Linked DNA regions of Homo sapiens. The protein of the gene in region 6 purifies or fractionates together with the protein of the main gene of each other region. This does not show direct contact. Each region holds a gene or a part of one and is shown on either strand. Other genes may lie near its edges.

What was found.
Region 1: the proteins of TKT (region 6) and UFM1 fractionate together in Homo sapiens (co-fractionation; 2 studies listed by BioGRID). This does not show direct contact.
Region 2: the proteins of TKT (region 6) and POLA2 purify together in Homo sapiens (affinity purification with mass spectrometry; 2 studies listed by BioGRID and IntAct, with this or other methods). This does not show direct contact.
Region 3: the proteins of TKT (region 6) and PGK1 purify together in Homo sapiens (affinity purification with mass spectrometry; 2 studies listed by BioGRID, with this or other methods). This does not show direct contact.
Region 4: the proteins of TKT (region 6) and ACAA2 fractionate together in Homo sapiens (co-fractionation; one large-scale study listed by BioGRID). This does not show direct contact.
Region 5: the proteins of TKT (region 6) and PITPNB fractionate together in Homo sapiens (co-fractionation; one large-scale study listed by BioGRID). This does not show direct contact.
Region 7: the proteins of TKT (region 6) and PGM2 fractionate together in Homo sapiens (co-fractionation; one large-scale study listed by BioGRID). This does not show direct contact.

What each region holds. Positions count from the first base shown.
Region 1 is NC_000013.11:38,359,364-38,364,477, reverse strand, and holds the end of UFM1 (ubiquitin-fold modifier 1), read right to left. Parts: intron 4,438-5,114; coding exon of another isoform or gene 4,412-4,437; exon of another isoform or gene 3,768-4,411; coding exon 3,700-3,767; 3' UTR 859-3,699; downstream 1-858. UniProt on the Homo sapiens protein: Ubiquitin-like modifier which can be covalently attached via an isopeptide bond to lysine residues of substrate proteins as a monomer or a lysine-linked polymer.
Region 2 is NC_000011.10:65,271,642-65,275,986, forward strand, and holds part of POLA2 (DNA polymerase alpha subunit B), read left to right. Parts: intron 1-4,250; coding exon 4,251-4,345. UniProt on the Homo sapiens protein: Accessory subunit of the DNA polymerase alpha complex (also known as the alpha DNA polymerase-primase complex) which plays an essential role in the initiation of DNA synthesis.
Region 3 is NC_000023.11:78,110,562-78,114,906, forward strand, and holds part of PGK1 (phosphoglycerate kinase 1), read left to right. Parts: intron 1-3,182; coding exon 3,183-3,338; intron 3,339-3,454; coding exon 3,455-3,599; intron 3,600-4,345. UniProt on the Homo sapiens protein: Catalyzes one of the two ATP producing reactions in the glycolytic pathway via the reversible conversion of 1,3-diphosphoglycerate to 3-phosphoglycerate.
Region 4 is NC_000018.10:49,796,534-49,800,878, reverse strand, and holds part of ACAA2 (3-ketoacyl-CoA thiolase, mitochondrial), read left to right. Parts: intron 1-3,284; coding exon 3,285-3,413; intron 3,414-4,345. UniProt on the Homo sapiens protein: In the production of energy from fats, this is one of the enzymes that catalyzes the last step of the mitochondrial beta-oxidation pathway, an aerobic process breaking down fatty acids into acetyl-CoA.
Region 5 is NC_000022.11:27,888,257-27,892,601, reverse strand, and holds part of PITPNB (phosphatidylinositol transfer protein beta isoform), read left to right. Parts: intron 1-271; coding exon of another isoform or gene 272-430; exon of another isoform or gene 431-473; intron 474-4,345. UniProt on the Homo sapiens protein: Catalyzes the transfer of phosphatidylinositol and phosphatidylcholine between membranes. Also catalyzes the transfer of sphingomyelin.
Region 6 is NC_000003.12:53,228,034-53,232,378, reverse strand, and holds part of TKT (transketolase), read left to right. Parts: intron 1-828; coding exon 829-1,022; intron 1,023-1,757; coding exon 1,758-1,922; intron 1,923-2,942; coding exon 2,943-3,099; intron 3,100-3,241; coding exon 3,242-3,372; intron 3,373-4,019; coding exon 4,020-4,103; intron 4,104-4,229; coding exon 4,230-4,323; intron 4,324-4,345. UniProt on the Homo sapiens protein: Catalyzes the transfer of a two-carbon ketol group from a ketose donor to an aldose acceptor, via a covalent intermediate with the cofactor thiamine pyrophosphate.
Region 7 is NC_000004.12:37,839,994-37,844,338, forward strand, and holds part of PGM2 (phosphopentomutase), read left to right. Parts: intron 1-72; coding exon 73-266; intron 267-4,345. UniProt on the Homo sapiens protein: Catalyzes the conversion of the nucleoside breakdown products ribose-1-phosphate and deoxyribose-1-phosphate to the corresponding 5-phosphopentoses.

The DNA.
Region 1 (5,114 bases), on a different chromosome or scaffold from region 6:
ATAAACATGTGAACAAAGGTCTCTGGTTTTCCTAGGCAGAGGGCTCTGCCGCCTTTCGCAGTGTTTGTGTCCCTGGGTACTTGAGATTAGGGAGTGGTGATGACTCTTAACGAGTATGCTGCTTCCAAGCATCTGTTTAACAAAGCACATCTTGCACCGCCCTTAATCCATTTAACCCTTAGTGGACACAGCACATGTTTCAGAGAGCAGGGGGTTGGGGGTAAGGTTATAGATTAACAGCATCCCAAGGCAGAAGAATTTTTCTTAGTACAGAACAAAATGGAGTCTCCTATGTCTACTTCTTTCTACACATAGTAACAATCTGATCTCTCTTTCTTTTCCCCACATTTCCCCCTTTTCTATTCGACAATACCGCCATCGTCATCATGGCCCGTTCTCAATGAGCTGTTGGGTACACCTCCCAGACGGGGTGGCGGCCGGGCAGAGGGGCTCCTCACTTCCCAGACTGGGCGGCCGGGCAGAGGCGCCCCCCACCTCCCAGACGGGGCAGCGGCCGGGCGGGGGCTGCCCCCCACCTCCCAGACGGGGCGGCTGGCCGGGCGGGGGCTGCCCCCCACCTCCCGGAGAAAAACTTCAAAGGTTGTGCAGTGAGTGAGACTGTTAGCTAGCACCTTCACCTCAGGCTACTTACCAAGCATTGGAAAGTGCACTGTCCAAGATTCCAGAACATATTCTACTTACTTTGACCCCTTAGACCTCATTCTGTTCTTCTACAAAGTGAAAAGGTGGCCTTCTCATTAATTCTCAAACCACCTGCATGGCAGAAATCACCAGAACTCCTGTTTACAGAGGATCTTTATATATTATTACAGATGTAATAAATCAGAATTCAAGGAGTGGTTTCCAAAAATCTGTATTTTTAATTTCCTAGGCGACTCTGTTATCACCCAGGTTTGGAACCTACCAACCTAGCCAGTTACAATAACCCCATTTTCTTCTCAACTTTTTTTTTTTTTTTTTCCGTCTGTAAAATGGACAGGCATTTGCAAGTACTGTTATGTATCACTGAATCACAGGAACAAATTCTGAGAAATGCTTCCTTAGGCAATTTTGTCACTATGTGAACATCAGAATGTACTTGTACAAACCTAGTTGATGTCACCTACTACAAACTTAGGCTATTTGGTATGGCCTATTGCTCCTAGGCTACAAACCTGTAGAGCATGTTACTGTACCTAATACTGTAAACAACTGTAAAATGATGGTAAGTACTTGTGTATCCAAACATAGATAAAGCACAGTAAAAATATAGTAATATGGGACCACGGTCATATATGCGGTCTGTTGTTGGACGAAACATCACTACTATGTCTGTGGCAGATGACTATAAACTAATTTCTCTGACTTATGGTCATTAATCATCTTTGCCCTTTTTTTCTTTACTACATGTATTATATACTGACTCAAAAGGTGTGCTGATTAAGAGCTCTAATAATAAGAACAGACAATATGGTTTACAATATAACAACATGTATTTTCATTAGATATTAATTATAAACCAATAACGCATGTAAACTGAATACAATACTTCAAATCATTCTGCACAAAGAAATTACAGATCACATTTTTTTAATAACAAAATGTCTACTTGTTTAATAAAATGTTTTTAGGAACTTACAATGTTCAAAACCAAAGAATAAAAATATTAAATATATCACTTTATGGCACAGGACAACATAAATTTATTTTTGTAACACAGCAGGCAAATTTTTGTGCTAGAAACAGGATGGAGAAAAATCTAAATTAAAGCAAAAAGTCAGGAAATGGGTGTTCATAAATTCCTGCTTAACTAAGACTCAACATTTATTGTAAGAAACGGGGCCTCTGAACATCAGATTTTGTTTATAAAAATAAAAACTTCCTCCCTGTCTCTGCTAAAAATACAAAAATTAGCTGGGCGTGGTGGTGCATGCCTGTAGTCCCAGCTACTCGTGAGGCTGAGGCAGGAGAAGCCTGGCGACAGAGAGTCTGCCTCAAAAAAAAAAAAACAAAACAAATAAATAAAAATAAAAACTTCCTCAAACATCAGATTTTTTCACCTCAGCAAATACTTTTTCCTTTGATAATTCATAATCCTGCTGTTCATTTGTCACATTTATGAATATCTGGTAATTTCATAAACAACTACCAATGGTACACTTCAAATGCTGATTCTGTTGAATCTTCTTATTTTTTTTCCCCCAATGAACTTAGGGCCTATGATAGAGAAGATACTGAAACATGCTAAGATAATAATTGGTCTTAGAAAGACTTTACAGCAAGTATTTAATGAAAGCCACTACATTTCCAGCTCTAAAAAGAGCCAGACACAATCCCTGCTTCCAGAGTTCACCATTCAGAATACAGGAGGTCAAGCACTGATTCTGAATCATTAATGGGCTTTGATTTCGTCTTTCAAGATTTGCATAGATACTGATTTCTTCCGGAAGGGCAAATAAAATCTTCCCTTACACACATCATTCTTTGGATTCTCATAAGGGGTATTTTGAAGTCTGTATGTTGACAAGGCCAGTAGATACTTTGTTTTCTCTAACTGCCTTCTTCTACTTAAGACTATGTCAAGTATTTTGTTTTCCCTTTCAGTTCTCCCCAACATACACCTTCTGCAGTTTTGTCTATCCAGTCCGCTTTTCTGTAACACTTTGCTACCCCCTTCTGTTCCCCTTCACTGTTTCCTCTGTTGCTTTCCTCCTTAATAGAAGCCTGGTGATCTGGGCTTCCCCATCTTTCCTTTCCTGGCTTCTTATTCACATGGGTGACTGATCTTAGCACTTCCTTAAAAGTTGGGTTTTCAATAAATATAACTCATCAGCACTTCCGATCTGTATTTCCTTGAGCTTTTTTTTGATCTTCAGATCTGTGCAATAATACTCTGTTCCTGAATGCTATTTAGAAATACTATCCTCAAAACACCAGTGGTTTCTTGAAGCTACTTGTTTTAAATGTTGTATCAAAAGAGATTGATAAAGGAATGTATAACTCAGCAAAGGATGCTTCTACTGTAAATTCCCACCATTAAAAGTACTGGATTCTATAGGTCCACCATTAAAAGCTGGTATGGGACACCAATTTATACACATAAGGGTTAGATTAAAATTTTAATTTTTTGGTTGATATTAAACTGAAATTTATATAACTGAGGTCTGAATCTTAAAAAAAGTAAATGATAAAAATTTAATATAGTTAACTGTTCACTGATATGTCTATTCACTTCATCACAACCTATATATTTAATTAAAAATCAAATTATGAGTCTGCAAATCAGATGCTATCAAGCAAATTGCCATCCAGGGTCCATAATTCTTTTTATATTTTTATCTCAGATGAATATATACGATTCAGTAAATTTTAATGTTCCAAATTGTTCTAAAAAAAAAAATTATCAAAAGCTTCCAGTTAACAGTTGGCTAATTCATTTGCCCCCAACGAACTACCTGTTTGTGTTGTGAGGTAGCATCAAAGACTATGATCTTCTGTGACAGTAGTAGCCTTAATTCATACGCATTCCCTCTTCATAGGAAGAGTATGGACAACAAAAAGGGACAGATGAGTCACCTTTCATTAATCATTGACTCCTGGTGTTTTCATAGTATGTTAAATGCCTGATTTCAATTTTACAACAACAAAAAATACCAATATTTATTCTGAAAGGCAATCGTATGTTCCAAGTAGCAGATATTAACAACTTCCAACACGATCTCTAGGAATAATCCGCAGTTCTGAACCATGTTTTAGAAAAACATTTCCTATACAAACAAACAAAACATAAAGTTAGATATCTAAAAATCAAGTTATCTTAATATTCTGACAATTATTAAATATAATAAATGATTTAGTAAACAGTAAAATGGGTACAAAAGCTCAAGCATCATGAGACCCCAATTCCAAGCTTTTTAAGTCTTGTTCCTATTCTCCTATCTTCACAATCCAACATACGCTTAAAATTTAAAATAACACCAGCCATGAAAACTCTGACGAATACTTTCATCAAGTAACTGTGAATAATTTAATCATGAATACTTCCTTCAATACACAATAATATATCTAAGGACAGGAAAAAAAATGTAAATTACTACAAGTGACAAAAATTTAGATACCCTGACATATTTGGGGTCAATTGCCTGATGAGATTTTCTTCATATCAAGGATATGCACATTCAATTTTTAAAGATAATAAAACAAGCAGTATGTTAGAGTTAGCAGTAATTCAAACTACTGTAAAATATTGAAAGTTTCTCGATTAAGAAAAAAAGAAACCTTTGTCTACTAAGTTTAAAGGCATCCATACAATAAAGTGCCTCACGATTTTCAATAAACCTTTTTAATAAAATTATATATTAACAACTACTGAAGTAACAAAAATTTGCAATTTTAAATCACTTCATTTTCTTTATGGCTGAATTTCAACTGCAAGGCCTGTGAAAACAACATAATTTTGTTACAATAAAGAAATACTTTAGAATATAATTTAAAAATAACTACTGCTCTAGAATGAGGTTACATTAAAGCATGCCTAATTTTAAAACTTTAGATTATAAGCCTAAGAGATTACATTTTAAAAATATAAAACTAATTTTAAAAAAGTTTTAGACTTCTTTTTATAAAGTATGAGACTACTTTTACCCTGTCTCCTGGTCAGGACACCAATATATCACCTGTATAAATTTAACAGTTTGAAGATCTGAATGTAGACTCAGCCCCTTGAAATGTAAATGACTATATTTAAAAAAAATAATAGCACTTAATGAATGCTTTCTATAAATAATCCAAGCTATGAAGCACTTTACAGTCACTATCTCACAACTACCTTAAGAGGTAGGTCAAAAAATACTCCAATTAGAAAGCAATCTTATCTACAGACTTTTTGTTATATATAATAAATACTCTTAATGCTTAAGCCACTATTAGGTTTTCTGTTACTTGTAGCCAAAAACATCTACAATCAATATACACAATGAAACAACTTATTACTCAGACACACAGGTAAAGACTGGTATATAATCCCTAAAAAACAGCTCCATTATGTTAAAATACTGTCAAGTGTAATTAGAATAGCTTAACTATTCAGTGTCAATTGACATATATAACCCCAC
Region 2 (4,345 bases), on a different chromosome or scaffold from region 6:
TTGAGGTCAGGAGTTCGAGACCAGCGAAACTCCATCTCTACTCAAAAAATTAGCTGGGCATGGTGGTGGTGCCTATAATCCCAGCCACTCAGGAGGCTGAGGCAGGAGAATCGCTTGAACCCGGGAGGTGGAAGTTGCAGTGAGCCAAGATTACACCACTGCCCTCCAGGCTGGATGACAGAACCAGACTCCGTCTGAAAAAAAAAAAAAAAAAAAAGTTTGTGACTGTGAATTCCACGCTAAATGAGTTGGAGTGAAATGTTGAGCAAACAATATGTCCAGGCTAGAGATACGTAAAATGCTTAGAACAGTACTTATCACATGGAAATTGTTCAGTCACTGTTAGGCCATGCATCAATGGCAGCATGATAAAATAGTCAAAGTGTGGCCAGGCATGGTGGCTCACACCTGTAATCCCAGCACTTTGGGAGGCCGAGGTGGGAGGATCACTGGAGGTCAGGGGTTCGAGACCAGTCTGGCCACCATGGTGAAACCCCATCGCTACAAAAGTACAAAAATTAGCTAGGCATGATGGTGGGTGTCTGTAATCCCAGCTACTCGAGAGGCTGAGACAGAAGAAACACTTGAACCCAGGAGGCGGAGGTTGCAGTGAGCTGAGATCATGCCATTGCACTTCAGCCTGGGCGAGAAAGTGAGACTCCATCTCAAAAAAAAAGAAAAGTGTGAATGTTGGCCTTTCCATACAAACAGTGCCAGGCTGAGGTTGCCTGACCCTTGTCAGGTCTTGGGAACAGGTGTCCCTCTGCTATAGAGGTAAATATGATATGTCAGTGATTTTAGCTTATCACTATTAAATATTTCACCTGTACGATTGACAGCTGTTCTTTTGCTTCCGTGTTCACCATAAATCTGCTGATGATTTGGCTGCCATGTCCCTAACGGAGAGAATGTGTTAGCCTGAGGACTTGACGTTCCCATACCCTTGGCAATTATATTTCTAGTAAATTAATAAACTGGCATCCTTGGTTATAATTTGATTTTCTCTGTGAGTGTGAGAATGTGCTTACCCTAGGATATGAAAATATGGTACCATTGGTGACTACATTTCTGATTAAAAATGATGAAACCGGCCACTGCGGTGGCTCACGCCTGTAATCCCAGCACTTTGGGAGGCTGAGATGGGTGGATCACCTGAGGTCAGGAGTTCAAGACCAGCCTGGCCAACATGGTGAAACCCTGTCTCTACTAAAAATACAAAAATATTAGCCGGGCGTGGCAGCGGGCGCCTGTAATCCCAGCTACTCGGGAGGCTGAGGCAGGAGAATTGCTTGAACAGAGGCGGAGGTTGCAGTGAGCTGAGATCGTGCCACTGCACTCCAGCCTGGGCAATCAGAGCAAAACTCCATCTCAAAAAAAAAAAAGAAAAGATGAAACTAGCCAGGCGCAGTGGCTTATGCCTGTAATCCTAGCACTTTGGGAGGCCAAGGTGGATGGATCACCTGAGGTCAGGAGTTCGAGACCAGCCTGGCCAAAATGGCAAAACCCCATCTCTACTAAAAATACAAAAATTATCCCGGCATGGTGGCACATGCCTGTAATCCCAGCTACTCAGGAGGCTGAGGCAGGAGAATTGCCTGAACCCAGGAGGCGGAGGTTACAGTGAGCTGAGATCATGCCACTGCACACTCCACCCTGGGCAACCCTCCGTCTCAAAAAACAAAAACAACAACAACAAAAAAACATGATGAAATTGGCATTAAGTGTTAATAATGAATCGTATGAGCTTGGTTAAAGGGAGCGCATCCTTGAGAACTGGTACTGGAGTTGGTGAACACTATTGGATTTCAGCCCTGAGGCTGAGGACTAGAACACCAGACTGTGCCTTGTTTACCAAAGTGCTGTCACCTTGCCACGTCTTGCGAGACAGACTGTCATTCTCTCAAAATATCCCTGCCCCACAACACTGGCCGTGGAGTGTTGTAGCCCACTGTATATTAGGAGAATCTTTTGGAGGGATAGTTTGAGAAAATGTGTTAAAATTATAAAATCTTTTTTTTTTAATTATAAAAAAAATAAAGGCAGGGTGTCACTATGTTGCTCAGGCTGGTCTTGAACTCCTGAGCTCAAGTGATCCTCCTGCCTCAGCCTCCTAAAATGCTAGGATTACAGGCACGAGCCACCATCCCTGGCCAAATTCATAAAATCTTTTTCTATCATTTGACCCAGTAATTCTCCCTAGGGGGAAAAAAAAAACTCTTCTGAAGAAATAATTCAAATTATGGGAAAAGCTGTATGCATGAAGATACGCATTTTAGCATTTTTTTAATTTAAAATCTTAATTTGCCAAATCACTTTTCACCTGAGACTCAGCATTACTTGTAATCACTGAAAATTACAAGCAACCCATAATCCAGCAATAGAGAAGTAATTATGTAAATCATTGTAGGTCAGTTTAATTAAATAACACAGCTACTAAAAAGGATAAAGACCTGTAATCCCAGCACTTTGGGAGGCCGAGGCAGGTGGATCACCTGAGATCAGGAGTTCGAGACCAGCCTGACCAACATGGCGAAACTCACATCTCTACTAGAAATACAAAATTAGCTGGGCGTGGTGGTGCATGCCTGTAGTCCCAGCTACTCAAGAGGCTGAGGCCAGAGAATCACTTGAACACGGGAGGTGGAGTTGCAGTGAGCTGAGGTTGCAGTGAGCCGAGATCGCACATCGCACTCCAGCCTGGGCAACAAGAGCGAAGTGAAATTCCGTCTCGGAAAAAAAAAAAGGGAAAAAGATTGGGTCAGGTGCAGTAGCTCATGGGTGTAATTCCAGCATTTTGGGAGGCCGAGGCAGGTGGATCAATTGAGGTCAGGAGTTTGAGACCAGCCTGGCCAACATGACAAAACCCCATCTCTACTAAAGATACAAAAATTAGCTGGATGTGGTGGCGGGCACCTGTAGTCCCAGCTACTCTAGAGGCTGAGGCAGCAGCATCGCTTGAACCCAGGAGGCAGAGGTTGTAGTGAGCCGAGATCTTGCCACTGTGCCCCAGCGTGGGTGACAGTGACTCCATCTCAAAAAAAAAAAAAAGATTAAAAATGTAACAGTGTGGGAAAATGTTGATAATTAATATAGAGTGAAAAAATTCAGCACATAAAATACTTAGGTTTATATTTAAACTAAGATTATGACTATAATTTGTATATTCTAATTTGTGTATTTGTAATCTTAATATACAAATTATAAGGCACCACGCCTGGCTTTTCTTTTTCCTCCTCAGACATGAGGTCTCGCCGTTGCCCAGGCTGGTCTTGAACTCCTGGGCTCAGGTGATCCTCCCACCTTGACCTCCCAGAGTGCTGGGATTACAGGCATGAGCCACCACCCCTGGCCTAGAAAAATATTAAAATACCATTAAGGAATATTCAAAACTGGTTATTATATCAGGGTAGTAGAATAAGGGATTTTTTTTTTAATCTATTTTCCATTGCAGCTGGTTTTGATGGTTTTGAATCTGTTCTCTGGCATTCTGTCCTGCAGTTGCCACCAGCTGACCACTCTGCAATATAACTTCTTAAACTTGCAGCCAGGAGGAGCCCTAGGGCAGGGAAAGCTGCAGACTAGCTGGCTTCCTGGCTGCTATCCAGGCAAGGATTTTGTTTTCTCTATTACAGTCGATTATCCTAGACTTTAGGGAGCAATAGGTCTCTGGACTGTAGGTTTCAGCCTCCGTTCTGGGCTTATCTTTGGATTCTTGTTGATGAGTCAAAAAAAAAAAAAAAAAAAAGGAGTGACCATCAGATGTTTGCTAACTCTTCAAGTATGAGCTCAACCTTGTTATCTGCCTGGAGTCATTTCCTTTGAAAATGTATGGTAGACTTTGCCAAAGTAAGTAGTAATGTCCCATTCCTTCTCAGGAAAATGTGTACACATAGATCAAAACTATGCATTGTAAAACTCATATCTGTTTGAAAACATAGAGGTAGGGACAGAAAGTAAACATATGAAGGATTTGACAGGACACATTACCAGCCTGGTGGTCCTTTTTGGAAAATGTTTGCTTTCTCGTAATTGCCTTCAAAATAGGGACAGTGTCCTGAATGTTGGTTACAGTTGTTGAAGATTTCTTTTTGAGATTATGCTTGGATGATGGGGCCTTAAGAAGAGAACCCACCCAGTCCTATTTTGTGCCTTCGTTTGGACATGTTCTCCCTTTTCTTCCAAGGTACTATACACTTAATTAGTATTGGGTCTAGTAGGACTGAGATTTTGTTTTCCTTTTTTTTCCCTAGGGTTCTCAGAAGCGAGCTATCTCTACCCCAGAAACCCCCCTAACAAAAAGGAGTGTGTCAACTCGTAGCCCCCATCAGCTACTCTCACCGTCAAG
Region 3 (4,345 bases), on a different chromosome or scaffold from region 6:
CAGTAGTTCGAGAACAGCCTGGCCAATATAGTAAGACACCATCTCTATAAAACACACACAAAAAATATAAAAATTTAAGGTTACTTGGCTTCTCTTGCAAAATGAAGAACTATGTAAGAGAAGGATTTTAAAAGTACCAGTAGTTACTAAGGTTATATGTAGTTTTACAAGCCCCCATTCAAATGGCTCAGATAAGTCAATTTTTGAGAATTTTCATTTGTTTTTGCTTCCAAAAAAACAAACAGGAAAGACTTCAGAAGTACGTTTTCAGTCAGTTTAGCTGCTCCAGTGTCTTGGATCCTAGATTCAGAAACAAATTTTAAGTGAGAGTACTGCTCTTGCTTTTGACTAGATTATAAAAGGTCTTTATTTTTGTCTTTACTTTCTTTTTAATTTTTTTAATTTTTAATTTTTGTAGATTTTATATATATATATATATGGGTTACATGAGATATTTTGATAAAAGCATGCAATACATAATCACATCAGGTTAAATGGGGTATCCATCAAGAAGGTTTTTATTTAATTTTTTTTTTTTTTTGAGACAGGGCCTCGTTCTGTCGCCCAGGCTGGAGTGCAGTGGCACGATCTTGGCTCACTGCAATCTCTGCCTCCTGGGCTCAAGCGATCCTCCCATCTCAGCCTCCCAGGGAGCTGAGACCACAGGCGTGGGCCACCACACCTGGCTACTTTTTCATATTTTTTTTGTAGAGACAGCGTTTTGCCCTTTTGCCCAAGCTGGCCTTGAGCTCCTGGACCCCGCCCACCTTGGCCTCCCAAAGTGCTGGGAATACAGGCATGAGTCACTGTGCTCCGCCTATTTTAAATTTTAAATGAAGGGTTTGTGTTGGCAAGGTGCTTTCTAATGATCTAGACCAGTGGTATCTAATAGAAATACAATGTGAGCCAAATTGTGTTAATTAAATTAAAGGGACATTTAACTTTTTTGGTACTAAGTCTTCAAGATCTGGCATGTGTTTTTATACTACAGCACATCTCAATTTGATCTAGTTATATATCTGGTACTCAACAGACACACATGACTAAATGACTGTCGTAATGGACAGTGCAGGTCTAGCCCAGAACATTTTCAGGTATTGGTCCTAGAATAGAGCCTGTCATTTTGCCAAGCACATCCCTGCTGTACCATAGTGGCAGGGTCTTTGTATAAGGCAGATCTGATCCCGCTTGATCTTCATTATTGTGCAACACACAGAAACGATTGGAAATATGCCTATCAAGTTATTTTAAGAGTAAAGAAACATGTTTGGAAATCTTTTCATTTCCGGAAATCCATGGAGTTGATTAACAAAATGAAGCATTAGAAATAATAAAACTTGCTGATAAGGGATAGTCCTGAAAACTAATTGGTTCCATTGCACAAACTTTGTACCTGATACAGATTTTTAAATTTGATATAAAGGAGTTCTTATATCTGCTAAATATTAATAACATAAGATATTTTAAAAGTATAACTTTTTTAATCATTCCATTCTTTGCTCAGATGTCATCATATCAGACTTTCCCTGGCCATCCTGTCTAAAAATCTCCTCTACCATTGTTCCCCGGTCATTTTTGTCCTCAAAAGTAGGGGAACAAAAATGGGGAACAATGGTTTGTTTTTTTTCTGTATCTCACCATCTGATATATTACATGTACGCACACACACATACATGTTTATTGTCTCTCTCCATTAGAATTTCACTTCCATGAGAACAGAGAGTTTTTAAAAAAGTTTTCTGTTTCATTCTCAGAACCTGGAATGATGCCTGGCACAAAAGAAGCATTCAATAAATATTTGATGAATAAATAAATGCTTTTCTTGATCAATTTTAATTTCTTATAAACTGGCAAAATGGCAAGTTAGTAGCAGGTTTATAACAAAACTTTTAAATGTTTAAAGGGAGTTAATTTTTTGATTAATTTATAATGTAATGAATGTGATACATTATGGAAACCAAGCTCTAGACAGTGCAATTATTTTTTCCTACATAAAAAAGTGACTTAGGATCTATTAATAGGTGCAGAAAAGTTACTACATGTTTTTTATTTTTCCCCAAATTTCCTTTGATGGTTTCAAGATTTGAGAATTTTATGTATTTTCCATAGTCATATAAGAAGTGTTTTCAGGGGTCCCCAAGATCACCCACATATCTCATGATGATTTGCTAGGACTCAGAGTTGTTCTCATGGCTAAAGTTTATTACAGTGAAAGAATGCATGACAAGATTAGGAAGAGGAAAAGACATGGGGGAGTCTAGAGAAATCCATGGGCTTCCAGTTTCCTGTGAGGGGACACATCAAGTGTTTTCCTTTCTTCAGCAGTGAAAAATGCAGTAATTGTCTGCAGTGTTTCTGCCTGGAGAAGCATGCTAGAGACTCAGATCCCAAGATTTTTGTTGGGAACTGGTAACATAGGGATCCTCTGCCTAGCAACTACCAAAATTACAAACTTCTGCTGGGTGTGGTGGCTCACGCCTGTATTCCCAGCAGTTTGGGAGGCTGAGGCCTGCAGATAACTTGAGCCCAGGAGTTCAAGACCAGCCTGGACAACATGGTAAAACCCCTACAAAAAATACAAAAATTAGCTGGGCATGGTGGTGCATTCCTGTAGTTCCAGCTACTTGGGAGGCTGAGGTAGGAAGATGACCTAAGCCCCTGGGGAGGTTGAAGCTGCAGTGAGCTGAGATTGTGCCTCTCCACTCCAGCCTGTTGGGTGACAGAGTGAGACCCTGTCTCAACAAAAAAAGGAAAAGAAAAAAAAAATTCTAGACTTCTAGAGTGGGGCAGGTGTTCAGCATAAATCACCATGTTTGTATAGACGGTCTAGGAAGAGTGAATAGCCCTTGTTGGTCTTGTCAGTTAACTTTGAAAGCCAAGTTCCCAGATACCAGCCAGGATCTAATCTTGCAGACAGGTCCTTCTGTAGATAGTAGCCTCAGGCCTGCTGTGTTAACTCTTGTCTGTGAAAGGGGCAGATACATAATGAGATTGTACAATCCTAGGTGGAGGGTTGGCATTGCATTTAACTTCTTAAGGACCACCATTGAATTACTGATAGTAGATTTGAAGGAACTTGGAGAAGAAAAGGAGCTTTATGCTTTATGAGGTTATCAATAAGCTAGTTCCCACTAATTTCTAGGAGTAACTTCATTCTGTTTGTTGTCTCTCTTTGGTTGCAGGATTAAGGCTGCTGTCCCAAGCATCAAATTCTGCTTGGACAATGGAGCCAAGTCGGTAGTCCTTATGAGCCACCTAGGCCGGCCTGATGGTGTGCCCATGCCTGACAAGTACTCCTTAGAGCCAGTTGCTGTAGAACTCAAATCTCTGCTGGGCAAGTAAGTGCCAGGCTCTGGTGCTGGTAGACTTTGTGGCGGGGGAAGTTGTCAAGCACGTTGTTACTGGTTTTTAACTTTCATACTGCTCAAGTGTCTTCATCTCTTCCTCTTCTCAGGGATGTTCTGTTCTTGAAGGACTGTGTAGGCCCAGAAGTGGAGAAAGCCTGTGCCAACCCAGCTGCTGGGTCTGTCATCCTGCTGGAGAACCTCCGCTTTCATGTGGAGGAAGAAGGGAAGGGAAAAGATGCTTCTGGGAACAAGGTAGGACCTGTGATTTTGACATTATTGGGGGTGAGGGCCTGAGTCTGTAAGAGACTGTGGTTGAAGAATAGAGAAAGCTCATTTATTTTAACTTAGACACCTTTTATTGAAGCATACAATGCCGACACAGCTTGATGGGTTATCTCAAAGTAAACACACTTGTGTAACCACCACCCAGGTCAAGGAATAGAATATTACCAGCATCCCAGAAGCCCTCCTTCATGTTCAGGTGGTGTTTAAATATGTTTGAAAAATATGTGAACACCTTTGAGGTGAAAGAGTATTCAGTGAATATGATGGTCATGATGATGTCACCTTGGATTTAAGGCATTTTCTTAAGATGTGTAAAGTATGTTCCTTTAAATCTCTCTTTAAGATAGAGGTACAGGTATCGACTTATTTCATAAAGAAACTAAGTCTCAAAAAAAAAAAAACTTAAGTTTCTGAAAGGCAGTCATACGATTAAAGTTAGAGGCAGTGGTGCTGTTGGTCTTTAGAGCTCAGCCCATTCAATCAGCAAACTTTTTCTATAAATGGCCAGATAGTTAATATTTTAGGCTTTCTGTGTTGTGCAGTCACTTCCATCTGCATATAGTCTCTGTTGGAACTACTCACCTCTGCCGATGTTGTGCAAAAGCAGCCATAGATAACTCACCAAACAGATTACTGTGAACTGACAACCAGAATTCAAATATTCAATGATAAAACTGGCTCTTTGCAGATGATTTTGAATTTGCCCATTGACT
Region 4 (4,345 bases), on a different chromosome or scaffold from region 6:
TGGGTGTTTCTCGCAGAGGGGGATTTGGCCCACAGGACAATAGTGGAGGGAAGGTCAGCAGACAAACAAGTGAACAAAGGTCTCTGGTTTTCCTAGGCAGAGGACCCTGCGGCCTTCTGCAGTGTTTGTGTCCCTGGGTACTTGAGATTAGGGAGTGGTGATGACTCTTAACAAGCATGCTGCCTTTCAAGCATCTGTTTAACAAAGCACATCTTGCACCGCCCTTAATCCATTTAACCTTGAGTGGACACAGCACATGTTTCAGAGAGCACGGGGTTGGGGGTAAGGTCACAGATCAACAGGATCCCAAGGCAGAAGAATTTTTCTTAGTACAAAACAAAATGAAAAGTCTCCCATGTCTACTTCTTTCCACACAGACACGGCAACCATCCGATTTCTCAATCCCTTCCCCACCTTTCCCCCCTTTCTACTCCACAAAACCGCCACGGTCATCATGGCCCGTTCTCCATGAGCTGCTGGGCACACCTCCCAGACGGGGTGGTGGCCGGGCAGAGGGGCTCCTCACTTCCCAGTAGGGGCAGCCGGGCAGAGGCGCCCCTCACCTCCCGGACGGGGCGGCTGGCCGGGCGGGGGGCTGACCCCCCCACCTCCCTCCCTCCCGGACGGGGCGGCTGGCCGGGCGGGGGGCTGACCCCCCCACCTCCCGGACGGGGCGGCTGGCCGGGCGGGGGGCTGACCCCCCACCTCCCTCCCAGACGGGGTGGCTGGCCGGCCGGGGGCTGACCCCCACCTCCCTCCCGGACGGGGCGGCTGGCCTGGTGGGGGCTGACCCCCACCTCCCTCCCGGATGGCGTGGTTGCCGGGCGGAGACGCTCCTCACTTCCCAGACAGGGTGGCTGCCAGGCGGAGGGGCTCCTCACTTCTCAGATGGGGTGGCTGCCGGGCGGAGGGGCTCCTCACTTAGACGGGGCGGTTGCCGGGCAGAGGGTCTCCTCACTTCTCAGATGGGGCAGCCGGGCAGAGACGCTCCTCACCTCCCAGATGGGGTCGCGGCCGGGCAGAGGCGCTCCCCACATCCCAGATGATGGGCGGCCGGGCAGAGACGCTCCTCACCTCCTAGACGGGATGGCGGCTGGGAAGAGGCGCCCCTCACTTCCTAGATGGGATGGCGGCCAGGCAGAGACGCTCCTCACTTTCCAGACTGGGCAGCCAGGCAGAGGGGCTCCCCACATCCCAGACGATGGGTGGCCAGGCAGAGACGCTCCTCACTTCCCAGACGGGGTGGCAGCCGGGCAGAGGCTGCAATCTCGGCACTTTGGGAGGCCAAGGCAGGCGGCTGGGAGGTGGAGGTTGTAGCGAGCAGAGATCACGCCACTGCACTCCAGCCTGGGCACTATTGAGCACTGAGTGAACAAGACTCCGTCCGCAATCCCAGCACCCCGGGAGGCCGAGGCTGGCGGATCACTCGCGGTTAGGAGCTGGAGACCAGCCAGGCCAACACAGCGAAACCCCGTCTCCACCAAAAAAATACGAAAACCAGTCAGGCGTGGCGGCGCGTGCCTGCAATCGCAGGCACTCAGCAGGCTGAGGCAGGAGAATCAGGCAGGGAGGTTGCAGTGAGCCGAGATGGCAGCAGTACAGTCCAGCTTCAGCTAGGCATCAGAGGGAGACCGTGGGGAGAGGGGGAGGAGGAGGGGGAGAGGGAGAGCTGTGGATTTTTTATAGATTCCCTTTGTCAGATTGAGAAAGTTGCCATCTGTTCCTAGTTTGTTCAGTGTTTTTGTCATGAAAGGGTGTTGTATTTTGTCAAATACTTTTTCTGTTGACTTTTTGTGTTGAAATCCACATTGGATTTCATTGTTTCCTAAGAAATAAGTAAAACTCATTTATTCCAAGTGATATTTAATAATATTAAACTCAATTAGAAAAGCAGCTTTGTGGTATTTGTCAAATGTTATTCGAAGCATATTCTGTTCTCTCTTAACCATAAAGGCCTAACCCCAAATATTTATCTGTTAATAATTTACACGAGATGATCGTGTAAATTTTTTTTATTCTGTTGATATGTGATATTTGACAAACCTTGGCAAAAGAATATCCATTGGCCAAGAATTTTTTTAATGACATTAATTTGTAAAATAAGATAATTTCATCTCAGTCAACAGATGAAACATTTAGTTAGTAGATTAATTGATGTTATACTGAGTTCCTCCCAGTTCCATCTGCATTCAAAACCCTTAACTTATAAATGTGCCGAATTTGTCAAGTTTTGAAAAACTTGAAACCTACACAAAAGTTAAAAGAATAGTACAATGAACATCCTAAAACCCCGTACCTTGATAGACCAATGTTTTACATTTTGTCAAACTTGCTTTTGCTCTTGCTAACAGCCTCCAAAACAGGCTGTTAATGTTTTTGGTTGTTGTTGGTTTTTTTTTTTTAAGTCATTCTTTTTATTCAAAGTGTGGTTCTTGGACTAGCAACATCAGCTTCACCAGGGAAATGGTTAGAAATGCAGAATCTCCGGCAGACCTAGACCTGTTGATTCAGAACTTACATTTTATTATAACAAGACGCCCCCATATGCATTTTAAAGTTTTGGGAGTGGTGGTCTACTCCTACCTCTTACTCTCCTGACCAATCATTCATCTGTCTTCTCCCTAAGTATGCAGTCCTCAGCCTGTTTTACATTAGAATTACTTGGGATGCTTTTTAAAAGTGACTACTGATGCCCAGGCCCCACCTCCAGCCTTTCTGGTTTAATTGATTTGCTTAGGAACTTAAGCATGAGTATGTTAATAAAGCTTCCTAGGTTATTCCAGCCTGCAACCAAGGTTGAGAACCACAGCCTCCGATACTTCCTCTGTTAAGGAGCATACTACTTTAGGATAGCGTATTCCATTTTTAAATAACTCTAATTGTTATAAATTTCTGTCTTATATTAAGGACTTAATGGGATTTCTCTAAGTAGCAATTATCTTTAATATATTTGAAAACCAATTGACTGTGGTTACACAACATTATGAATGTATTTAAATAATACCATTGAACTATACACTTAAAAATGGTTACAATGATACATTTTGTTATGTGTATTTTGCCCCAATAAAAAAATAGAAAAAAACCCAATTGACTGTAGTTTTTATTCAAATTGTAAACACATATTAGATATAATATGCTGTACTTAGATGCATTTTGTCCTACCTTAGAGCCATATAGTTTATCATTTTTGATAGATTGCCAACATTTCCATGTATTTCGTGCTTGTTCTTAATTAGTAGATTTATAGAGAAAATTATTTTTCTTTTCCTTCTCTCTTCTAGAGTTCTTCAGATGCTATATATTTGGCAAGGCATGTTGGTTTGCGTGTGGGAATCCCAAAGGAGACCCCAGCTCTCACGATTAATAGGCTCTGTGGTTCTGGTTTTCAGTCCATTGTGAATGGATGTCAGGTATGGACAACATTTTTTTAAATTCTCTGAAAATATGTTAATAGTTACTAGAAGAAATGTCCCACTGCAATATAACACTTTAGCTTTAGGGAGGATTGCTTGAGCCCTGGAGGTCAAGTAAACCATGATCATACCACTGCACTCCAGCCATGGGCAACAGAGTGAGACCTTGGCTCCAAAAAAAAGAAAAAAAAAAAAAAGCTAATAATGAACCTGAAAGTGGAATAAGCCTGTCATAAAAGGACAAATACTGTATGTTTCTACTTCTTTGAGATACCTAGCGTAGTCAAATTCATAGAGACAGAAAGTAGAATGGTGTTCCCAGGGACTGGTGAGGGAAAGTTAGTGTTTAATGGATATGGAGTTTCAGTTTTGCAAGATGAAAAGCGTTCTGGAGATGGGTGATGGTAATGGTTGCATCACACTATGAATACACTTAAACTACTGAGCTGTATACTTAAAAATGGTTAAAATGGTAAGTATTATATATATATATATACTTCAATATTTTTAAAAGCTAGTATGTTCATCATTCTTTCGAGTGCTTCCTACATGCTAGGCACCCTGCTAGATTTACATTCAATATCTCATTTAATCTTACAACCATCCTATGAAGCAAGAACTATTATTATTATTCCCATTTTACAGGCAAGGAAACTGATTAAAGCCATTAAGGTTACTCAGTCATAGAATTTGAACCCAGGTCTGTGAGTGTTACCTGTGAGGCACTGAATAAAGACCGTGAGGCAAGCAGGAAATCTCAAGAATTTAGGAGAGGATAAGGAAATGTATTTTATTTCAAAGGAAGTGAATGATGCTGTTAGTAGAAGTACAAACTAGTTTGACCTTTTTAAAGGACAGTTGGTTAAATACATTTGTTTCTTTGAGCACAGAGAAGAAAGTGAAATCCAATTTCATTTGTAAAAGTCTTC
Region 5 (4,345 bases), on a different chromosome or scaffold from region 6:
TAGTTAATGACTAGGTCAGGACAGCTTACAAGCCTGGAGCTGCCCATCACTAAAATACCAAGCAGCAGTATGCCACACCAGGATCGGGTGCCCTGGGGAAGGCATTCCCATTATGTTGTTGGTGTTTGAAAATGCTATAATGACCAAACAAAATGGCTCGACTGACTCAGACTTATGGTCCATAGGTTTGCAGTCTACGTTGTTCACCAGCAGAGTACAAGATACCTTTGGTTTTGCTGGAGGCATAAAAATTCTTTGTTCCTGTCCTCAGGCGAAAATGGGCAGTGTTTACAGGCATGAATGCTGGTGGAAAGAGCAGAGTAAGGGCAGATTGCACAAGAACCGTGGAGGCCCTGGTTCCCATCACCTCCACCTCAGCACAGACTTCAGAGAGGAGAGGAGGCACTGGATGCATGACAGCAGCACTTGAGATAGGTGCTCCAGGTGGAAGGCACTGCACATGCAAAGGCTGAGTAGGTAGTTCTCTGTGTGAAAATGGTGATGTTTGGGGTGGATAGCTAGTGAAAAAGACTGGATTGAGCCCAAGTGAGGAGGATCTGTGTTGTGAGGTATGGAGCTTTGACTAAAAACATACATTCTAAAACTAGGTGGGCTTCAGATTTCCATTCTGAGGCTCTGCCACCTACTGGCTATTTAATCTTGGACAAGTTGGTTAGCCTCTCTTTGCCTGTATTATCTTGTGTAAAATGAGAGTAATTATAAGATTAAATGTGAGCACTTAAGAGTATATTAGTCTGTTTCATACTGCTGTAAAGATACTACCCATGACTGGGTAATTTATAATGGAAAGAGGTTTAATTCACTCACAGTTCTGCATGGCTGGGGAGGCCTTGGGAAACTTACAGTCATGGTGGAAGGGGAATCAGGCACGTTTTACATGGCGGCAGGAGAGAGAGGAGGAGGAAGGAGGAACTCCTAAACAGATCTTGTGAGAACTCACTCACCGTCACCAGAACAACATGGGGGAAGCTGCCCCCATGGTCCAGTCACCTCCCTTCCTTGACACATGGGGATCACAGGTCCCTCCCTTGACATGTGTTAATTACAATTTGAGATGAGATTTGGGTGGTAACACAGAGCCAGATCTTATCATACAGCCAGTGTGTAGTTCAGTAAATGCTAGCTGTAATTATCATTATTATTAGCTCCAGTTGTACAAGAGTTCCAAGAGTCTGTGTTCACACCAAGCATTGTCTGGGGACTAAACACAACCTGCGTATATGTGGCTTTTTGATGTTCATAGCTCCTAATTTCCCATTACGTTTTAGAGATTAGTAAGATATAAATTTATTTTAAAGTTTATTGAATTTGCAGGAACTATTTTTTATTGGGATAAAATACACATAATCTAAATTTTACCCTTTTAGCCATTTTTAAATGTATAATTCAGTGGCATTTGGTACATTAACAGGGTCCTGCAACCATCACCACTGTTTAGCTGCAAAACGTTTTCATCACCCCAAGAGGACACCCTGTACTCATGAACAGTCGTTCCCTGATTCTCCTTCCCCCTAACCTCTGGCAACTGCTAACCTGTTTTCTGTCTTTTGGGATTTGCCTATTCTGGATATTTCATATAAATAGAATCACGCAACGCACAGCCTCCTGTGGCTGGCTTCTTTCTTATACTTCGCATTGATTTACAAGATTCATCTTCGTAGTGTGTGTCAGTACTTCATTCCTTTCTATGGCTGAATAATATTCCAGTGTATGGATAGACCACATTTTGTTCATGCATTCATCTGTTTTTTGTTTTGTTTTGTTTTTGAGACAGAGTCTCGCTCTGTCGCCCAGGCTGGAGTGCAGTGGCGCGATCTCGGCTCACTGCAAGCTCCGCCTCCGGGGTTCACACCATTCTCCTGCCTCAGCCTCCCGAGTAGCTGGGACTACAGGTGCCCACCACCATGCCCAGCTAATTTTTTGTATTTTTAGTAGAGACAGGGTTTCGCCATGTTAGCCAGGATGGTCTCGATCTCCTGACCTTGTGATCCTCCTGCTTCAGCCTCCCAAAGTGCTGGGATTACAGGCATGAGCCACCGCGCCCAGCTTCATACGTTCATCTGTTGATGGACATTTGGGTTTTTTCTACCTCTTGGCTGTTGTGACTAGTGCTGCTGTAGACCTTTGTGTCACAGGAGCTTTTCGTCTAATGTGCTGTCTTGGGGGATAATTAAAGAACTGTTACGTAAGGATTATCAGACCTTTTGATGTAAAAAAAAAAAATAATTCCAGTATGCATATTTCTCTGTTACAAAAAGAAAGAGAAGAACTTTTTGGTGGCAAAGTTGCCCTTGACAGTTTTTAAGCCTGGAGCAGAGCATTGAGCTTCCAGGGTTGGGATGGAGGGTGTGGGGGTGGGCGGTGTTGAAGGCAGGTATGGGTGGTGGCAGGAGAGCTAGGACCAGACCCCCATTTCAGGGAGGAGGTGACTGTGAAATCTAGTGGTGCAGGGACCCTGGGTCTGCTCTTTTCTTCTGCACATCCTTGTCTGTCCACTTTCACAGGCATTGACAGCTGCCCCTACACTCTAACCCTTTAATTTCCGCCCCATTGTTTGGGCCTTGACTAGTTAGTGTTTTAGGATTAGCTTCTGTCCCAAACACCTGGACCACCTGAAGGTCACTACTTCTTACCAGATCCAATTTGGTTTTCTGTTAAGTTAATTAGTTCATTTCATTCTGCCCTTTTAGGTAATTTTGTCACTCGAATATTCTAGTCTACAGTGTAGAGAAAAGGCACAACACCTTTGCTATTCTAAAACGGTAATGTCATAGCAGTCAATAGTACTGAATGCCTGTGCAGTGTGTACCAGTGCTGTGCATGCAGCACTGTGGTAGCTGTCGAGGATTTGTATAGCACCTACAAGAGACTTACAGTCTTAGCAAGAGAAGCCCAGTACAATGAAGTAGTTAACAAGTGGCAGAGGCTTACAGCGTGGTCCAAAGTGCTGTAGGATTTCAGAGAAGAGAACAGATGATCTGTAAGAATGCAAAGCTGAAAAGGCTGAAGGAAAGACTCCTGACATGAGGATGTGTAGAGTTTTGATGAGTGGAACAGTCATTACACTTTTTCCTCTTACACTCGTTGCTCTGACACATTATACGTTTATTTCTTCATTTTTCTCTCTCCCTTCCAAGTAGAAATTAAACCTGAGAGGGAAGAGTCTTTGCAACCTTAGCCCATGTCTCCCCAGATCCTATAACACTGTCTGAAATGTAGTGGGTACTCAGTGAATTCCTGTTAATAAATGAATCATAGGCAAGCAGAATAGAAATGAAGGTACAGGTGTACCATCTGACATTGAATTGGAGTAGTTTTTCGAGCTGAAGGGAACCTTAGCTACCTAGGCCTCCTTGCATTTAGACTGTGCTTCACATAATCCTAAGAGTTTCTTGCCCCCTCCTCCCTCAGGTTATCAGGATGGAGCAACTAGAATAAGGGGCTGAGTTCCTTCCTGTTCCCTCTCCCAGCGCAGTTGTGCTTGCTTGTCGTTAGTCTTGACTGTAAGATTTACTTTGAACACACAGTTCTGCAGCTACAGAAATTTTGGTTTCAGGGCTAACCTCCTGAGGCCCAGGTAAGCTAGTATTTCTCATGATCACTTAGCTAATGCCTAAAGTGGAAATCCCAATTCTCAGATCACTGACTGATTCTTCCCTAGCTCAGGCCTTGCCAGGGCAGTCACTCTTCGAGCTGCCACTTGAGCATTCTCTTCCTCTCCTCACACTGCTGTGCCACGGACCATACCCTATGCTTTCCTGTTCCAACACACTACTTGTTCTCACCTCCTTTCTGGGACTCCTTTCTCTGTCCAAAGTTGACATGTCCTTCAGGATCTAGGTAGGTCGGAGCTTGCCTCCTCCAGGGAGATTTCTTTCAAGTTGAAATCAGTCTTCCTCTCTGCTGAATTTCAGAAGCTTTTGCTCATTTCATTGGTGTGTTTTGTTCTCTTTGTTTAGCAACCTGTTCCCTTTTTACAGAGTAGGCCCTTCATAAATATCGGTCAGATGAACCTGATGAGCTTGAGAATAATGATGAAACTAAACACTATGAGCCAAGAGTTTGTACTGGAATACAAAATCAATTTGATGTCCTTTTGATAACACCTGGGTTGGCAAGGGATGAGGAAGCAGGCACTCCCATACATTGTCTGTGGGAATGTAAATTAGTGGAACTGTTGCTAGTCTAGCAGAATTACAAGTGTACATAGCCTGTTGACCCAGCAAAATTCTGCTTCTAGGAATTAACTCTACCCACTGTAAAGTGACAGGTGTATAAACCTAGGATCAGAAGTCTAAGTGTTTCTTTATCAATCGGGAACTGA
Region 6 (4,345 bases):
GAGGATGTTCTGAGTGGGGGTTTGGCAGTGCTGGGAGGTGTCTGGGAGGGGGTGGATGTCGAGGAAAGGGCTCTGGGATATTGTCATGGCTTTGGTGCTGCTGCCTGGCACTGCCCTCTGGTGTTAAAAATGGGCAGGATCTGGACCACTTGCAGCTTCTTGGGGGCTCCTGCTAGTCTTTCGGGCTGCTGGGTGCTACCTGGGAGTTCAGTCTGTTCTTGGCTCTGGCCAGACTCTAGTGACTACTGAGGTGACCTCCAGGGAGAGGGATATTCAGCCTTCCTGGCCGCACACAACAAGGTGCCATGGGGTGGGCATGCCTAGGTGCTTATAGACTCCTCTGCTGCTCACAGATGCATTGGGTGACCCTGGAAGCCCTGTTCTGGGCCTTGGGTTCCCCTTCTGATGGCCAGGGTCCCTTCCAACCCAGTCGACAAACTGAGTATTTCTGCAGCAGACACCTCTACCTGTGTGTGACCCTGCAGGCGGGGTTGTGGGGAGGAAGAGAATGGACACATTGGTGAAGGGATGGGGCAGTGGGCCCAGAAACACACACCTGCCCACGTCTGGCCCCTCCTTTCCCACTCAGCTGTGAGCTCCCAAAGGACCAGGCAGTAGACAGTGAGTGGTGGGCACGTAGGAGTCCATCCTATTCACTGCGACCCTCCTTTCCTGGCCCCCGTGCCTGGCTGGGCTCTGCCTGTCTGGGATGATGCCATTCCTCCCTTGCCCTCGGCAGGTAGAGGGCCAGTCTCCTGGAGCAGCCTCCTGGCCCTCTGGGAGCTTCTGTCTTACCCATTCCTCTGTCCTCCCGTGTTGGGTCTGCAGGGGTAGAAGATAAGGAGTCTTGGCATGGGAAGCCCCTCCCCAAAAACATGGCTGAGCAGATCATCCAGGAGATCTACAGCCAGATCCAGAGCAAAAAGAAGATCCTGGCAACCCCTCCACAGGAGGACGCACCCTCAGTGGACATTGCCAACATCCGCATGCCCAGCCTGCCCAGCTACAAAGTTGGGGACAAGGTACAAAGTGGGGCCTGTTTCTCTGAACCCATAGTTCTCAGGTTTCCCAAGTCTGTGGCCCAGATACACCCTCTGGAGGGCTGGGAAAGGGAGGAGAGCGATTCATTTAGGGCGAGGAGTGATCCCTGAGGTGTTGTTCCTGTCACTTCCCTCAGAATGACAGACATCTCTGGAGTTGACCTGCAGAGGCTCAGACCGGGCAAGGGAATTGCCCACTTAGCAAGCTTAGCAAGCTACTGACAGAACTGAGATCAAAGCCAAGGACTCACTCCCAAGTTCTTGCATCGCTGGTCCACGAGGGACCCTTGGCCTGAGCTCAGGACCCCCACCTGACCTGGGAAAGGCTAGGCAGAGCTGTCCCACTCCAGGTTTCTGTCCCAAGGGAACCCATCCATGCAGCCTGTGCCTGGCCTTGACTCCCAAGCCTTCTGTGTTCCCATGCAAAGTGGAATAGGTTCATGGACCTGGTGCAGCAGGCGGGAAGTTGGGGCTGGTGGGTGTCTTCTGTAGCTTATACCTTTCACAGCCAGAAGGGGCCGGGGCTCCAGGGGCTCCCAAGACATTGACCGTAGTCGTTGGCAACCTTTCAGCAGTTAAAAGCCTCTGCAGGACCTTGTGCTCCAGGGCTTCCATTTTTGGCCCCGTTTTAATCCTTCTCTGAAAGCAGGGCTCCAGGCTGCAGGTGTGCACTCACCCTCAGAGGGGTCCAGAGCCTTCCCACTCTCTTCCTCACAGATAGCCACCCGCAAGGCCTACGGGCAGGCACTGGCCAAGCTGGGCCATGCCAGTGACCGCATCATCGCCCTGGATGGGGACACCAAAAATTCCACCTTCTCGGAGATCTTCAAAAAGGAGCACCCGGACCGCTTCATCGAGTGCTACATTGCTGAGCAGAACATGGTAGGTGCTGGGGCCGGCAGGGACAGGTCCACCCAAGGCTGAGGGCTGTGGTCTGAGGGGTGCGGGGCAGCCATGTTGGCAGAGCCAGGTGCCTGCTGTAGGCCAGCCCAGGGAGACTATAAGAAAAGCCAGGACCCAGCGTTAACCCCTGACCTTGAACAGCCACAGTTTGGGAGGTTCTGCCCAGGTGCAAATGTCCTGGACAGGTGTGCACATGGGGGAGCCGAATGGGACTGCAGGTGCTCTCAGGAGGAGCTGCGTACAGGCCAGGCCTGGTGGTGAATGGGGTCTCTTCCAGGTGGAGGACAGGCCTGGCCAGTAGGTGGGGCCGTGATGGGTTTAGCAGCCCGAGTCTGTAGAGCACCTGTAATGCACACGGCTCTGGGCCCTGCCACCCTGAGGGATGCAGAGATGAGGGAACTCTGGGCCCCTGACATGTACCCATTTGGGGAAGCAGACCCTTGTCAGGAACTGAGGTTGTGAAGTAAGGAACAATGTTTTGTCCATGTTTTCAAAATATCCCCTCCTGGTGGTCCAGGAGCCCAGCCTGGCTTGCAGGCCCCTAGGGACAGGGAGCTTCCTCTCTCTGGAGGGCACTCAGATCTCCAGAGTTCTTCCAACTGGACCTGAAATTCTCTCTGTGGTTTCCAGAGACTGCTCTGCAGGGCGTGGGGCTGGGGAGGTCCCAGGTACTAGGGAAAGAGGCCTTGTGTTGGCTGGCAGATTTTGGAGCCTTGAAGGGCAGCTGGTTTGGAACTGATGACTGTACTCAGTGCTGCTTCTGGATGAGTGATTTGGGGCCTGGAGCCTCAGCAGGCATGAGGCTGCTGCCCTCGGACCCCAGGGAGGGGTTGGGAGGACCGGTCTCTGCAGAAGAAGGTGGTGGGGGACATATTCAGAAGCCCAGAAAGGATGGACAATCTATATACAAATTGTGGCTTTCTCCACAAAAGGGGTCCTAGGCTCCCCGACCACCCTCTGCCTGCCCCTTTGGGCTGACCCTGTCCCACCTGCCCCCAGGTGAGCATCGCGGTGGGCTGTGCCACCCGCAACAGGACGGTGCCCTTCTGCAGCACTTTTGCAGCCTTCTTCACGCGGGCCTTTGACCAGATTCGCATGGCCGCCATCTCCGAGAGCAACATCAACCTCTGCGGCTCCCACTGCGGCGTTTCCATCGGTGAGTTTAGCCAGGGTGTTTACACCTGGAGCTCCCTTGACTTTTGCACCAGGAGGTATGGGAGGGGGATGGGCCAGGATTCCAGCCCATGGATGGGGGGGTAGGGGTCTTATTTCTGCATATCCTTTCCCCCACACCCCAGGGGAAGACGGGCCCTCCCAGATGGCCCTAGAAGATCTGGCTATGTTTCGGTCAGTCCCCACATCAACTGTCTTTTACCCAAGTGATGGCGTTGCTACAGAGAAGGCAGTGGAACTAGCCGCCAATACAAAGGTAGGTTGCATGGCTGTTCTTTCTCCTGCTGGCAGCCATCACTTCCCAAGGGAAACAGAAGAGGAGGCCAGAGCTGGTCACTTGCTGCCCCAGGGGGTGTTTCCTGACCTTGCCCCTGGTGTTCGTGTAGCTTGTGGAAGTTAGACAAGAAAAAACGAAATACACACCCCACTTACTGCCACGTGGCAGACATTGTCAACTGATTGCCAGTCTGTCTCTGCTGAGAATCCTGGCAGCCCTGGCCGGTCCAGCGGTTGACACCTCTCCACCCTCCTGAGTTGGGTTCTCCAAGACAGGCAAGGATGAGCTGAGCCCTGTGGTCCAGGCCCGGAGCTGCATGCCACAGACCCAGTGCGCGTGGTTCCTGCCCCTCTGCCTGGTGCAGTCTGTGGGAGTAGCCCACCTGCAGCCAGTCTACCTGGTGGAAAGTTGCCTTCGGTCTGAGGCTGCAAGGTGGTGGGCAGTTCTCAGAGTGTTCAAGTGGGGTGCGGGCGGCAGAGGGCAAGCAAGGCCCTTTTCCCTGCTGGAGTAGCCAGGATGCAGTAACTAACGCTCCCATGGGAAGGGATGGCCTCTCTAGAAAGACCTCGTCTCTGAGGTTGGGTGTGCCACATCCTGTATCCTCAGTTTATCTGTTTCGGTCTCAGGGTATCTGCTTCATCCGGACCAGCCGCCCAGAAAATGCCATCATCTATAACAACAATGAGGACTTCCAGGTCGGACAAGCCAAGGTCAGTGCCTCGCATGCCCCAGGAGCCCACAGAGCTGCCTGGACCCTCCCTGCTGTGACTCCCAGCAGTCAGGGCACACCCTGCCCCAGGGCCCTGAGCCTTACTCACCCTCTGTGTCACCCCCAGGTGGTCCTGAAGAGCAAGGATGACCAGGTGACCGTTATCGGGGCTGGGGTGACCCTGCACGAGGCCTTGGCCGCTGCCGAACTGCTGAAGAAAGGTGAGGAGAAGGGGCCTCCAAA
Region 7 (4,345 bases), on a different chromosome or scaffold from region 6:
TGGGACCATAGGTAATAGGTGCCTTATTTCCATTAACTGTAAACCTTCTGAATGTGTTCCTGGGTCCTCTAGGTCTATTGGGATAATGGAGCTCAGATCATTTCTCCTCACGATAAAGGGATTTCTCAAGCTATTGAAGAAAATCTAGAACCGTGGCCTCAAGCTTGGGACGATTCTTTAATTGATAGCAGTCCACTTCTCCACAATCCGAGTGCTTCCATCAATAATGACTACTTTGAAGACCTTAAAAAGTACTGTTTCCACAGGTAAATGAATTGTGTCTTCACTGACCTTAAGTGAGTTAATGTGATTCAGCCAAATTCTATTAGTGTTTGTGAAGTTTTTCTCTTTAATTTGCTCATGTACTACAGCTGCATCTGATTTTATTTTATTTTATTTACTTATTTTGAGACAGGGTCTCACTGTGTCACCCAGGCTGGAGTGCAGTGGCACGATTTGGCTCACTACAACCTCTGCCTTCTGGGTTCAAGCGATTCTTGTGCCTCAGCCTCCCAAGTAGCTGGTATCACAGGCGTGAGCCACTGCACCCAGCTAATTTTTTTGTATTTTTAGTAGAGACAAGGTGTTGGCATGTTGGCCAGGCTAGTCTTGAACTCCTGGCCTCAAGTGATCCACCCACCTTGGCCTCCCAAAGTGCTGAGATTACAGGTATGAGCCACCACGCCCACCCAGCTGCATCTGATTTTAGAGGCTGTAGATCAAGCCTTGGCAAACTTTTCTTAAAGGGACAGATAGTAAATATTTTTGGCTTTGAGGTCCACACAGACTCTTTCTCAGCTACTCAACTCTGCTGTTTTAGTACAAAAGCCATCATAGATGAAATGTCGGCGAAGGAGTGCAGACAGAAGTGGGTGGCTTGCCCATAGGCCATAGTTTGCTGACCTGTTATAGATTCCATACATGTATGTGATTCATACATATTCATACATGTAAGTGTGTGTGTGTGTGTGTATATATATATATATATATGTATGTTTTTAAAACTTGCTCAAAAGTCTTGAATAGCAAACACTGGTATTTTTCTATCTTTCCAAAAATTTTCTGTGCATATGCAAGCGTATATATATATATATATATATATATATATGTGTGTGTGTGTGTTTGTATATGTATAATATACTTCAAAACCATAAATAGGAATATTTGTGTGTGTGTGTGTGTGTGTGTGTGTGTGGTTTGTTCTGTGCACTTTTCCCCCCAATTAATTTGTCATGGACACCTTCCTGTGTTAGTCCCTATTAGTCCTGACTTTCTGTCTTAAAGGCTGCTGCACCGGTGTATTTAACTCAGTGACACAGACTCAGTCCTTACCATCAGGTAGGAAGAGGTGTAGCAGAGTGACAGTAGTGTCTGCTTGAGTATGCTGTAGGTCCCACCCCTCCTGATTGTCCCCCTAGCAAGAAACCACTGATTCAAAGAAACTGAACTTGTAGGTTTGTCTTTGATACTGTATTTGTTGGATCAGCTGATGGTGCCCACTCCAGTGCAGAGTATGAAAGCCCAGTCCTGCCTGAAGGGAGCAGCCGTGCCAGCTGAGTGTTGCCCACATGAAAATATAGGTCCCAGTTGCCAGATCATCTGAGTTCTCCTCTTCCCAAAATAACTGGAAACCTGGATTTTGTGTGTGAAATCTCCTAATTCCTACGTGTTGGACCATTTTTTCCAATGGTGTGTAGTCCAGACAAAATACGTCTGTGAACTTTCCCTCTGCCCCTCTGATTTAACTTCACGAAGAATGAGGCATTTCTGCTTTTCCACTCCAGGTAGCTTGGGAGTTAACTCCCCTTGTGCACAGTTGCTTGAGTATGTGTGTGGGTGTGTGCGCGCGTGCATGCACGTGCATGTGTGTGCGCATGTGTATCCGTAAGGTAACTTTCTGGCATCAAAATTGTATGTGCATTCACAAAGTTGATAGTGCTTAGCAAATTGACCTCCAAAAATATACCAGTTGGTGCTCCCACCAACAGTAGATGTTGACAGCATATGATACCTACATTTCCTCCTGCTCTGTGATCCAATTTCTCATTTTTCCTGATTTGCTAGTTGAAAGTAATAGCTCACTTTTATTTGTATTCTTTAATTAACCTATATTTTCTATGTGTTTGTTCACCTTTTATATTTATAAACATCTTTGTTTATAATATATATACATATATACATATTATATATACATATATGCATATACTATATATATAAAATATATTTTTTAGATGTTTTCTGTTGTCTTTGGAATTTTCTATTGAAACTGTTTGCTGAACTGTTTAAAAATCTGTATAATATTTATTAGTCTTATTTTATAGCTTCTGGGTTTTATGTCATGCTTAGGAAGACATGCTCTATAGCAAAATTATTAAAGTAATAGCAAAATATTTCCCTTGTTCTTTCTCTAGAACTATCATGTTTGTGTTTTATAATATTTAAATCTTTTGTTTCATTAGTGATTTTTAATTTTATATGGGGCATGAAGTAGGAAAGCAGATTAGATTTTTTTCTAAAAGGTTTGCAGTTGTACCAACATCAATGGAAGAATCTTTCTTTTTTTTCTTTTTTGACTAATTGGAAAGGTCACCTTTATGCAACAATTTCTAACATTAATCAAGTGCTTATTATATATCAGATAACTGCTGGAGGCCCTTCACATGTCATTTTTTTTCTTTTTTTTTTGAGACAGGTTCTCACATTGTCACCCAGGCTGCAGTGCAGTGGCATGATCTTGGCTCACTGCGGCCTTGACCTCCCAGATTCAGGGAATGCTCCTGCCTCAGCCCTCTGAGTAGCTGGTACTGCAGGTGTGCACCACCATGCTCTGCTAATTTTTTGTATTTTTTTGTAGAGATAGGGTTTCACCATGTTGCCCAGGCTGGTCTCGTATTCCTGAGCTCAAGCAATCCACCCGCCTCGGCCTCCCAAAGTGCTAGGATTAGAGGAGTGAGCCACTGTGCCCGGTCAACATGTAATTTCATTTAATCCTCAGAGTAATGCCAGTAAATTCTGGTATATTATCATGCATGTTATAGATGAAAAAACTACAAGGAAGAGTGGTTAATAGCCAGCAGTCACACAGCTTATAGATGGCAAAGCTCCAGGATTTAAATTCAGAGTCTGACTCCAGAGCGTGTTAACCACTCAGCATTATTACTTCTGTGTTCATCTCCCATTTCAAATTAGATCAACTTCTGAACTCTCTATTCTGTTCCTTTAATCTGCCTTTTTATGTCTAGTACCAAGCTGTTTTAATTACTGTAGGTTTATTATGTATTTTAAAATCCAAGAGAGTTGTTTTTCCAGATTTTTCTTCCCTAATCTTACATATTTATTTTCCAAGATGCATTTTATTTTCAGGGTATGCTTGTTTTAAACCACAATTCTCTTAGATAAGACCTTGTTCATTTATTCATTCCCAAAAGAAATGGATAATAACCTAAGATTCCAGCCATCAGAGCACTGGAAGTTTTTAAAGCCTTTTATTTTTCTGTAACTTCTCCTGTTAATTTTGGTATCTGTTGTTAGTCTGTATAAAGTCCCTAAGTCATGGCATGGTATCAAACAGGATTGTTACTTGGCAAACAAAAAGTTTTATTTATTTATTATTATTATTTTTTTTTTTTTCCTGAGACGGAGTTTCGCTCTTGTTGCCCAGGTTGGAATGCAGTGGCACAATCTCGGCTCACTGCAACCTCCACCTCCCAGGTTCAAGCGATTCTCTTGCCTCAGCCTCCCAAGTATCTGGGATTACAGGCATGCACCACCATGCCCAGCTAATTTTGTATTTTTAGTAGAGATGGGGTTTCTCTGTGTTGGTCAGGCTGGTTTTGAACTCCTGACCTCACACGATCCACCTGCCTCGGCCTCCCAAAGTAAAAGTTTTATTTTTTATATCTTTATGTATGGGATAACCCAACACATTTTGTTAAAAAGGACATTTTGAAAATCATTTCTGAAGCTGATAAAAGACATTTGGGAACCTGTCGCTTTGGGGATGTGTGGGTGTGTGGAGCCCTGGAACTGTCCCGGGCTGGCTGTAGCACTGTCAGGGCACCTGTCAGGCCAGCAGTGAGTCTCGTGTGGGAACATGAGCTTGAGGTTCTTCTTTGTATCTCACTCTAGATGGGATGCATAAAACAAAACCTGAAATAATCAGATTTGCTGAAAATAACTACAGAGTAGAATTTAAAACTTGAGTATGTTGAGGGAAGGAATATATATATCTGGGAGAGAATGGATACGTTTTGTTTTTCTGAAATGGAATTAGAAAGATGTTCAGTTGTCTTGTGCATTCTTGCAAACCTTGCAGTTTTGAGAGCCCTGTTTCTGCCTTGTATCA